3 linked regions of the Homo sapiens genome follow. The protein of the gene in region 2 purifies or fractionates together with the protein of the main gene of each other region. This does not show direct contact. Each region holds a gene or a part of one and is shown on either strand. Other genes may lie near its edges. The genes, in order: MYO19, DHDH and ZNF185.

Region 1 (3,649 bases), on a different chromosome or scaffold from region 2:
CACTCTGGGAGGCCAAGGCGGGCAGGACACAAAGTGAGGAGATCGAGACCATCCTGGTTAACACGGTGAAACCCCGTCTCTACTAAAAAAAATTCAAAAAATTAGCCAGGCATGGTGGCGGGCACCTGTAGTCCCAGCTACTCGGAAGGCTGAGGCAGGAGAATGGCGTGAACCCGGGAGGCGGAGCTTGCAGTGAGCCAACATTGTGCTACTGCACTCCAGCCTGGGCGACAGAGCAAGACTCTGTCTCAAAAAAAAAAAAAACCAAAAAACATGAAGGCCGCGACAGCTGGTACTCAAAACAGCTGGCAGCTACAGAAGGGTGGGAACCTGTATAGTAGAAGGAGACTCTGGTATCATAGTCTGGTTGGGTTCAAATTTCAGTTCTGCCTCTTAGTAGCCCTGTGAGCCTGGGTAAGTTACCCTCTTTGAGTCACAGTTTGTTTATTCGTAAATAAAGGAAAATAAACTCAACTGACAAGGTTATTGGGAAGAAAAGAAGAGATATACAAAGCATTTAGTCAGTGCCCGGCATACAGCATGTACTCAACAAATGCTATCTCTTCTGCCAAGAGCTCCGGCCACTTGCAAGTAGCACTTCCAGGCTACTAGCCTTATTAGAAATAAGGCTATAGGAATGTTGCAAAGGAAAAGAACCATGGGTTAGGCCTTTTTGGGAAGAGACAGTTCAGCTTTTGATGTAAAACAGCTGTACCTTCTGAGAGAGGTAGCCCCATGTCTTCATCACCTGCCTTTTGTGGCTTAAATTTAGGCTGGCTAATGAATTGGTTCCCTTGGCCCGAGTCTGCTTGAGAGAAAGCCTGGCTCAGACGGCTGTCTGAGGTCAAGAATAAGCACCAAGGGAACAGGTCCTTTCTCCTCCCTTGCCTATCTTTTTTTTTTCCTTTCTTTTTTAAGAGATGGAGTCTTGCTCTGCTACCCAGGCTGCAGTGCAGTGGCATGATCATATCTCACTGCAGCCTCCAACTCCTGAGCTCAAGTGATCCTTCTGCCTCAGCTTCCTGAGTAATTGGGACTAGAGGCATGAGTCACCCTATCTTCCTTTGCCCATTCTTGATGTATCATCCCTCCACTTCCTCCTGTGGTCCCATTTCTCCTACTGTCTCCTTTGGGGATGCAGGAAAGACAGAGTGGGGGTTGAAGACAGGTATCTTGCTGAAATGTGCTTTTGAAGGAAGAGGTCTGTGATACAACAGGTGAATTTCCAATGAGAATGGTGAGCCTAAAATTTCAAATCTCTCATAGAAATAAGCCATGGTGGCAAATTTCCTCCAAGAGGCCCAGTAATGCATTTCTTCCAAAACTGTTGCCTGTTCTCTGAACTTTGGGCCCACTATAATGCACAAGGTAGGCTCTTGGCCTCCAGAGTAACTGCGGAGGTCAGAGCACAGCTATATCTATGCATATCCCTCTCCTTTTATGAAGGGGAAAAAAAAACCACCACTACACAAACCATTCACAAACACAGACACAATTTATGAAGAGTTCTGATCCAACCAGAGAGGCATCTGAGTATAGTGATCAAGTACCTGGACTTGAAAGTTAGTTGTCTGGCTCTGAATCCTGACTCTATCTCTTACAGTTATATACTCTTATGTTAATTTCTTAATCTCTTTCTGCCTCAATTCTCCTCATCTGGTCCCTGTAATCCCAGCTACTTGGGAGGCTTAGGTAGAAGAACCACTTGGGCCTAAAAGTTCGAGGCTGCAATGAGTTATGATTGTACCGCTGCACTCTAGCCTGGCCAACAGAGCAAGACCTTGTCTCTAAAGTAAAAAATAAAAATAGAAAAATTTCCAGCTGGCCATAGTGGCTTAAGCCTGTAATCCCAGCACTTAGGGAGGCCAAGGTGACCCTGTCTCTATAAAAAATATTTAAAAATTAGCTGGGCATTATGGCATGTGCCTGTAACCCCAGCTATTCTAGAGGCTGAGGCAGGAGGGTTGCTTCAGCCCAGGAGGTCGAGGCTACAGTGAGCTATGGGGATATCACTGCACTGGGCAACAAAGTGAGACCCTGTCTCTAAATAATTATTTAAAGTTCTTTTCTGTAAAATGGGATAATGGTACCTACCTCACAGATACTCACAAGCACAAAAACACACGAAGGATTTAGAAAGGCCATCTGGAATCTGCCAAAAGGGGTTAGCTATTCTTCTTCTAAAAGTGGCTTTTTTTTTTTTTTTTTTTTTTTGAGACGGAGTTTCGCTCTGTCGCCCAGGCTGGAGTGCAGTGGCGCGATCTCGACTCACTGCAAGCTCCGCCTCCCGGGTTCACGCCATTCTCCTGCCTCAGCCTCCTGTGTAGCTGGGACTACAGGCACGCGTAAAAGTGGCTTTTGTATTTTTTTTTTTTTTTGACACAGAGTCTCGCTCTATCGCCCAGGCTGGAGTGCAGTGGCACAATCTCGGCTCACTGCAACCACTGTCTCCCAGGTTCAAGTGATTCTCATGCCTCAGCCACCCAAGTAACTGGGATCACAGGCATGCACCACCATACCTGGCTAGTTTTTGTATTTTTAGTAGAAATGGGGTTTTGCCATGTTGGCCAGACTGGTCTTGAACTCCTGGCCTCAGGTGATCTGCCCGCCTCGACCTCCCAAAGTATTGGGATTACAGGCATGAGCCACCGTGCCTGGCCTTATTTATTTATTTATTTAAGAGACAGGGTCTCACGGCTGGGTGCGGTGGCTCACCCCTGTAAAAGCACTTTGGGAGGCTGAGGCAGACGGATCACTTGAGGTCAGGAGTTTGAGACCAGCCTTGTCTACAGAGTGAGACTCCATCTCTAAAATAAAAATAAATAAACAAAAATTATTAAAAAAAATTTGGAGGCTGGGCGCGGTGGCTCACGCCTGTAGTCCCAGCACTTTGGGAGGCCGAGGTGGGTGGATCACGAGGTCAGGAGATCGAGACCATCCTGGCTAACACGGTGAAACCCCATCTCTACTAAAAAATACAAAAAATTAGCCAGGCGTGGTGGCCAGCACCAGTAGTCCCAACTACTCGGGAGGCTGAGGCAGGAGAATAGCATGAACCTGGGAGGCAGAGATTGCAGTGAGCCAAGATCAAGCCACTACACTCCAGCCTGGATGACAGGGTGAGACTCCATCTCAAAAAAAAAAAAAAAAAAAAAATTGGAAAATAGAGATAAGCAAAAGGAGCATAAAAATCCATAATCATACTACCCAGAAATAACCAATATTTTAGAGAATATCATAGGTTTTTTCCCCTACATACTTTAAAAACATTGAAAAGTATTATATTTTTGTGTAACTTGCTTTATTCCATTGTATTGATATACCTTTTTTTTAATAAGAGAAAAAAAAAGTTTAAAAATAAGCAAGAAAAAAGCCCAGAGCAGTCAACTGTTTTGCCCACTTCTTACCTTCAAACCTGTTCCAGGAGCCATATGGCTGGAAGGTCAAGCTGCAGTGTCTACTATGGCTCCCTTGATGCTGGCAGGCCCCACACCTGGCTGCTACCTTGCTGATGTCAGGCACTTACCTACCCAAGACTCCACTAGACTCTGAGCTCCTTGAGGGCAAGCACCAACCTCAACATCTGCCTCAGCCCAGTGCCTGGCAACACTTGGTAAAATAAAAAGTCAGCAAATAAGTACTGGCACTC
Region 2 (3,749 bases):
CAGGGACCAGGTGGTCGGTCACACCCCTGTCTCCCTTAGGGAGCTGTCCTTAGGAAGGGGCTGTTACCTCTCGCCATTCTCGCTCTCTTTTTTAAAATTTTTAATTAATTAATTAATTTTTTTTTTGGAGGCGGAGTCTCACTCTTCGCCCAGGCTGGAGTGCAGTGGCGCGATCTCGGCTCACTGCAAGCTCCACCTCCCAGGTTCACGCCATTCTCCTGCCTCAGCCTCCCGAGTAGCTGGGACTACAGGCGCCCGCCACCATGCCCGGCTAATTTTTTGTATTTTTAGTGGAGATGCGGTTTCACCGTATTAGCCAGGATGGTCTCCATCTCCGGACCTCATGATCTGCCCGCCTTGGCCTCCCAAAGTGCTAGGATTACAGGCGTCAGCCACCGCGCCCGGCCTATTTATTTATTTCTAAGACCAAGTCTCACTCTGTCGCCCAGGCTGGAGTGCAGTGGCGCGATCTTGGCTCACTTCAACCTCTGCTTCCCGGATTCAAGTGATTCTCCTGCCTCAGCCTCCCCAGTAGCTGGGATTACAGGTGCGTGCCACCATACCTGGCTAATTTATTTTTATTGTTATTTTTTGTAGAGATTGGGTCTTGCTACGTTGCCGAGGCTGGTCTCGAACGCTAAGTGTAGTTTAACACCTACTAGACAGCCAGTCCCAGACCAAGCCCGTTTTATAGTTCTCCTCCCAGCCAAAGGTCTTTATGGAACCCAAAGGGATTGGACCATCCTGAGGAGCCTTGCATCTCCCAGGGGGCAGCCAGGGGGCACCGCTCCAGGGGCGGCGGCCAGCACCCCCATCGCCCTCGCCACTCACCCACGCTCGGGTCCTTGGCCAGCTCCTCATAGGAGCCGTAGGCCTTGGGGATGTCGTGTTTCTGTGCAAACTCCTTCGCACGGCTCAGATCGCGGGCCGCCACCGCCACCACCTGGAGGGGCACAAGAATCGGATTTGAGGGGCTGAGGCAGGCGTGGAAACTGGGTGGAAGGGAGGCAAAGGAGGAGGCTCTGGCCAGGGGAAGGGGAGACGTGGTCCTGGGGGAAGAGATGACGGGGGCTGGACATTTGGGCCCTGGGAAAGAGAGATCTGGGGGAAAGCCGTTATTAAATCCCCCAATATTGAAATTATCTTCATAGTAGCTTACATCAAGGCCTTTCCAAACCTCAAGACACTCAGGTTTGTGTGGGGAAAAGAAAGAGAGATCAGATTGTTACTGTGTCTATGTAGAAAAGGAATCTGTATCATGAATAAGTTCAAGGAAAGGTGCTGTGACCGGATGTGCACGTAGGCTAGATTTATGTTTCACTTTACACAAACATCTCAGTGTAGCAAAGAGTAACAGAGCAGTATCACTGCCAGCATATCTCGCCTCCAGCCACAGGTAGGTTTTCTCCTATCTCAGAATAGAAGGAATGGGAATGGTCCGCTTTACACTGAGACAGTCCATTCCCAGGGAGAGCAGGAGACAGAAGCCTTCCTCTTATCTCAACTGCAGAGAGGCCTCCCTCTTTCACTACTCCTCCTCAGCACAGACCCTTTACTGGTGTCGGGCTAGGGGATGTAAGGTCTTCCTTTCCCACGAGGCCATATCTCAGGCTTTCTCAGTGGGGGGAAACCCTGGACAATACCCAGGCTTTCTTGGGCAGAGGTCCCTGCGGCTTTCCGCAGTGCAATGTGCCCCTGGTTAATAGAGAATGGAGAATGGCGATGACTTTTACCAAGCATACTGCCTGCAAACATATTGTTAACAAGGCACATCCTGCAAAGCCCTAAATCCATTAAACTTTGATTCAATACAGGACATGTTTCTGTGAGCACACGGTTGGGGCTAAAGTTACAGGTTAATAGCATCTCAAAGCAGAAACAATTTTTCTTAGTACAGTTCAAAATGGAGTTTCTTATGTCTTCATTTTCTACGTAGACACAGTAACAATCTGATCTTTCTTTTCCCCACAGGTTTGCAGAACAGAGATGGAGAAGGAGGTAGCAAGGAAACAGACGTTTCACTGCAATGACGACCCACTCACTAGTCCTGAACCCTAAACTCCCTCCTCCTTTAGACTCTGGAGTCCCGCCCCCCGCCTCCTCTTCCCCAGAATCCGGAGGGCGGGCAGACCTGGTGCTCAGAGCGAGGCAGCGTCTGCAGCACGGCTGTGAAGTCGCTGGAGATGAGGCCGACAGACACGATGCCCCAGCGCAGCGCCATGGTTGCGATGCGGAGCCCTCGGCACCTTCGGTCCCTCCAGGCGCGAATTAAGTACCTGACGCCCCGCCCACCCCGGGGGCGGGTCCCCATCCTCCGCCCGTATTGCGCCTACGCCGATTCTCGTTGGCTCCAGTCGGCAGAGCGGTCATTTAGTTCTAGCTTCCCCGCTGGGCGAATGCACCGTTTAGCTCCGCCTTACAGAGGGAACCACACCTTGACGTCGCTTCTACAGATCTCTTACCTATGACTTTAGGCTCGTCGGATACGCGGGGTAAGGACAGCGTGGGGAGGAGAGGTTTGCTTTCTTGCCAACACCAATCCTTGAGAGTTAGATTTAATGTCTTGCCCTCTGGACTTTGTGGCAAAACTTTGCCCTGACTTTTTTGCTCTCAAAGCCACGCATCATTAGGGGTTGTTCACAGAGAGAGAGAGGATTGTAACAGCAAACTTAATAATTATTACTAATATGTATAGAGCACCTGTAGACCAGCTCCTCAGCTCTGCGCTTTACCTTCTTCGTTCCTAATTTCTCCCCGCAGACCTGGGAAGTAGCTTCTATTGTCCCCAGTTCACAAAGGGGGAAACAGACTCCAAGATCCCTGGTCATTTTTTGGAGGTCTCACAGTCAGGAGGTAAAGACCTGTGAATTGGCTGCTTCCAGAAGCTATAGTTTTAGAAACCAGGCTGCTTTGCTTGTTAGGAGCCCCAGAGCCTGGCCGACTGGTTTCAAAACCCTCCTTGCCCCTTCTTGGCTGTATTGCTTTTGGACAAGAGGTCGCCCTCTCTGGTCCTCACTTTTCTATTCTGGAAAGCAGAGATCATGATAACATCTACCTACATAGGGTTGTGAGGAGGATTCATTGAGCTCTATGGTCTATTATGTAAAATATACTGTATTATTATAATTATTATTGATATAGGGTCTCGCTCTGTCGCCCAGGAAGGAGTGCAGTGGCACAATCATAGCTCACTGCAGCCTCAAATTCCTTAGCTCAAGGAATTAGCTCCTGCCTTAGCCACCCTAGTACCTGGGACTACAGTAGCTGGGACCCAAAGTAGCTACTGGCTACTACACCTGGCTAATTATTTTGTTTTATTTATTAATTATTTTAGAGATAGGGTCTCACTCTGTTACCTAGCTGGACTGCAGTGGCGTGATAATAGCTCACAGCAGCCTTGTACTCCTGGGCTCAAGCTATCTTCCCGCCTCAGCCTCCTGAGTAGCTGGGAGTATAGGCATGTGCCCCACTTACCGCTATTTGTTTGTTTGTTTGTTTGAGACGGAGTCTCACTCTATCCCCAGGCTGGAGTGCAGTGGTGTGATCTCAGCTCACTGCAACCTCCGCCTCCCTGGTTCAAGTGATTCTCCTGCCTCAGCCTCCTGAGTAGCTGGGACCACAGGCGCCCTCCACCATGCCCAGCTAATTTTTTTTATTTTTAGTGGAGACAGGGTTTCACCATGTTGGCCAGGATGGTCTCGATCTCCTGACCTTGCGATTTGCCTGCCTTGGCCTCCCAAAGTGCTGGG
Region 3 (3,649 bases), on a different chromosome or scaffold from region 2:
TCCACAGCACTGGGCATTCTTGGCTTTGTGTGTCTTTCTGGCTTCTTGATGCCAGCAGCCCATTTTTCTTCCTTCTCTGCCCACTCCTCTCTTTTGTAGTCATTTTATTTTTACTTCTGGTTAGATTTGCAAGTTAATGAAGTGATTGATTAGGTTCTAATCTGAAGGGCCCCTCCTGCTGACACGAGTCCTCTGGGTTGTCAGATGCCACCACTTCCCTTCTCAGTCACCGCTGGTATCTACCCTCTAGTCTTAGCTCAATTCAAAGGCTTTAGTTGTCACAAGTGTGATATCCCAACAAGGGAAGCACCACCCTACGGTAGTGTCCTTCACCTTTCTGCAAATGGATTGGAGGCTGCAAAGCAGAAGACAAAAGCAAACAGACTCAGCAGGAACTCTCCCTTCCCTGATTCTCCTCTGTAGAAGTGCAAGCTCCGTGCTAAGAAAGTCAACATACCTCTCAGAGTATGGAGTGCTGCCACATGGAGGCTTCTTCTCCATGGCGAATGAGTCCTCAATGCTGCTGACGCTGCAGGGAGTTTGATAGGGGAGAGGAGGGCAGAGATGAGAGCCAAATCACTATCATAGTTAATTTTCTAATTAACCTTTGGCCACAAGCTGAGACATAACTACGATGCCAGTCGTCATTCATGACTTGGTGCCACAGGGCCCTTCTATGGGGGGGCAAAGGAGACCTTTCACAATGAGGGAGATGATCGGGGCTGGGTGGCTAGGATTCCTGAGGTTGTATATGCCAAGGGGACCCCACTGACCAGTGGGAAAACAGCAGAGCTTTCCTCCCCACCTATGATATAATGTGACAGTCACCAGGAGCCCACTCAGCAGAAATCAGATACTGGGAATGAGAAGAAAGAAGGGATCATTCTGGTATAATACCTGTGCTTGAGTTATGGGGTAGAATTAGGGGGTGCAGACGGGTTTGGAGTTTCTTTTTGGGGAGACAAAGGTGTTCCAGAATTGGATAATGATGTTTGCATAACTCTGTGAATGTACCAAAACCTCGGGACTGTACACTTTAAAGGGTGAATTATAACTCAATAAGCTGTTGAGAAAAACCACCCTAAGGGCCTACAGATGTGAAAGCAAAGCTCAGAGAGGTTGAACATCTTGTCCGAAGTGATCCTAACAGGGGGGCCTGAGCTGGGGCTTGAACTTGACCCCCACAGCCATGCTCATCATTCCACAGCACCAATAAAAGCCAGTCCAGAAGCCCCAGAGGCCCAATCCTGAAATAAGGCCAGGATGCTCCTCTCTGTTGCTAAAATCCTCCAGTGAGATGACATGTCATAAGAAACATTCTAAGGGACCTCACCTCAGTGTGGTAGGTAGCAATACACCGAGGTGACATGGAAGTACCCCTCCACATGGCATCACAAAGCAAGAAAATGAAGAGATGATCAATGAAAAGGGGAGGCCGAGGCAGGTGGATTGCTTGAGGTCAGGAATTCGAGACCAGCCTGGCCAACATGGTGAAACTTCATCTCTACTAAAATACAAAAACTAGCTGGGCATGGTGGTGGGCGCCTGTAATCCCAGCTACTAGGGAGGCTAAGGCAGGAGAATTGCCTGAACCCAGGAGGCAGAGGTTGTGGTGAGCTGAGATGGCGCCACTGCACTCCAGCCTGGGCAACAGAGCAAGACTCCATCTCAAAAAAAAATTAATTAAAATTAATTAACTAATTAATTAAAATTAAAAAGCAAAGCCACACATGTATCAGGAACTGCAGTCACATGTGTGTTCAAATGAGGCAGCCTGGCATGACAGAAAAGAACATGAGGGCAGAAGAGAAGAGCTCTGTGATCTGAAAAGAAATAGGATGAGCTAGTTGGTCCCTAGGGCTCTGCCAGCTCTGTCAAGAGGGGTGTTCTCAGCATTTTACAAAATAAAATAACAAAGACAAGCAGAACAGAATGGCAGTGAAAATGGTGTGCAGGATGAATTCACCGGAAGGGAGAACCCAAAGGTGCCCAGTTCAGTAGAAAATGCATCAATCCCATCAGAGGGCAACTACATCACTCATCCACTCGACAATTACCCCGAAGCTACTCTGAGCCAAGTCCTGGACAAGGAACTGGAAATGCAGGGATGAGAATATGGGAGCCGGCAGGAGAAGGCCGACATGGAAGGGTTTGGGACCCGCTCTTACTTGCTATAGCGTGCAGATACTGGCTTCCCAGAAGACACTTCACTAGCATTCACGTACTCCTTCACGAAGAGAATCCCTTTGCTGTAGAAGGAGCACAGAAGAAATCAGAGGTACACCAGAAGATTCCAGGGAACCAGGCCTGGCCCACAGGAGTGGTTCAGGGCTGGGGAGACCCAGCCTGGTTTGAAGGAAGTGAAAGAGCTCATGGGAAGGCCCAGGATAAAGGCACTGGCACTGCTGTGGACTCAGACTACAATCCCAGGCCATGAGCGTCTCTTGTTGTGTTTGGACTGAGGGCCCCAGAAAGGGGCTTCCTGCAACCAATGACAATGTGCTGTCCTCCTCCATGCAGACCTCGGTGACCCCATCTTCTCCCCAGGCTTCTATACTTCTACACTTCAGTCCTGTGGGCTTTCCACCCCTACTTTAGGGCTGCGTCGTCTTTCCCCTCTACCCACAACCAAGATATCCTCCAAGCCTTAATCCTACACTGTCAGTCTTTACCACTCAGCACTTCCCAGAAGGTACTCAGCTACTGTGCAATCTCCACCTCACATCTAACCTCTCCATTCTCACTCCTAGAGTCCAGAGGCCTAGAGGTTGCCTCATCCTGGACTGGCCTCTGCAGGACTGGAAACAAGGTCTGCATCATGCTGGGCTCAGGATGGCCCCAAATTTTCCCCCATTTCCATGCTGCACACTCCAGCCTGCTGACCTGATGTCTGCAGAGGCCCCCTTGGATATGCCCCCCTCCCGCCCCCAACACACACACCTCACTGAGCAGCCTTCCTGCAGTGACATCCCTTCCTGCACCCTGACAGGTGGCCAGGAATGCAGGTGAAGCAGTGGGCATGTGACAGAGACAGACAAACCTCATGTTGAAATGTGATTCCCAGTGTTGGAGGTGGGGCTTGGAGGGAGGTGACGGGATCATGGGGGGATCCCTCATGAACAGCTAGCACCATCCCCTTAGTGAAAAGTGAGTTCTCATTCAGTTAGTTCACACAAGATCTGGTTGTTTCAAAGTCCGGGCCCTCCCCTTCCTCACTCTTGTTCCTGCTCGTGCCATGTGATGGTCCTGCTCCCACTTCGGCTTCCACCATGATTATAAGCTTCCCGAGGCCTTTGCCAGAAGCCAAGCAGCTGCTGGTGCCATGCTTGTGCAGCCTGCCAAACTGTGAGCCAATTAAACCTCTTTCCTTTATAAATGTCCCAGCCTCAGGTATTCCTTTACAGTAACACAGGAATGCCCTCACAGGCCCGGCCTTCACGGACTGGAGCTGGCTTCCCAGGCATGGACCCATGAATGGCAGAGCCACATCCACTAGTGCACTAGGAAGTACCACTGCAGCCTCTTACAGAGATAGGAAAAAGGAGGTGTGGGAATGTCTAGGCCCGGTAGATGGGAGTTTATATTAGGGGACTAACACTGTCCTGTGTGGCCCCTTGGCTAATGGCCTGCTAGAAACTGGGGAAGGCAC

What was found.
Region 1: the proteins of DHDH (region 2) and MYO19 purify together in Homo sapiens (affinity purification with mass spectrometry; one large-scale study listed by BioGRID and IntAct). This does not show direct contact.
Region 3: the proteins of DHDH (region 2) and ZNF185 purify together in Homo sapiens (affinity purification with mass spectrometry; one large-scale study listed by BioGRID and IntAct). This does not show direct contact.

Annotation. Positions count from the first base shown.
Region 1 is NC_000017.11:36,528,261-36,531,909, forward strand, and holds part of MYO19 (unconventional myosin-XIX), read right to left. Parts: intron 3,610-3,649; exon of another isoform or gene 3,408-3,609; intron 2,808-3,407; exon of another isoform or gene 2,806-2,807; coding exon of another isoform or gene 2,716-2,805; intron 1-2,715. UniProt on the Homo sapiens protein: Actin-based motor molecule with ATPase activity that localizes to the mitochondrion outer membrane. Motor protein that moves towards the plus-end of actin filaments. Required for mitochondrial inheritance during mitosis.
Region 2 is NC_000019.10:48,932,194-48,935,942, reverse strand, and holds the start of DHDH (trans-1,2-dihydrobenzene-1,2-diol dehydrogenase), read right to left. Parts: upstream 2,245-3,749; 5' UTR 2,222-2,244; coding exon 2,132-2,221; intron 944-2,131; coding exon 832-943; intron 1-831.
Region 3 is NC_000023.11:152,964,047-152,967,695, reverse strand, and holds part of ZNF185 (zinc finger protein 185), read right to left. Parts: intron 2,250-3,649; coding exon 2,169-2,249; intron 530-2,168; coding exon 458-529; intron 1-457. UniProt on the Homo sapiens protein: May be involved in the regulation of cellular proliferation and/or differentiation.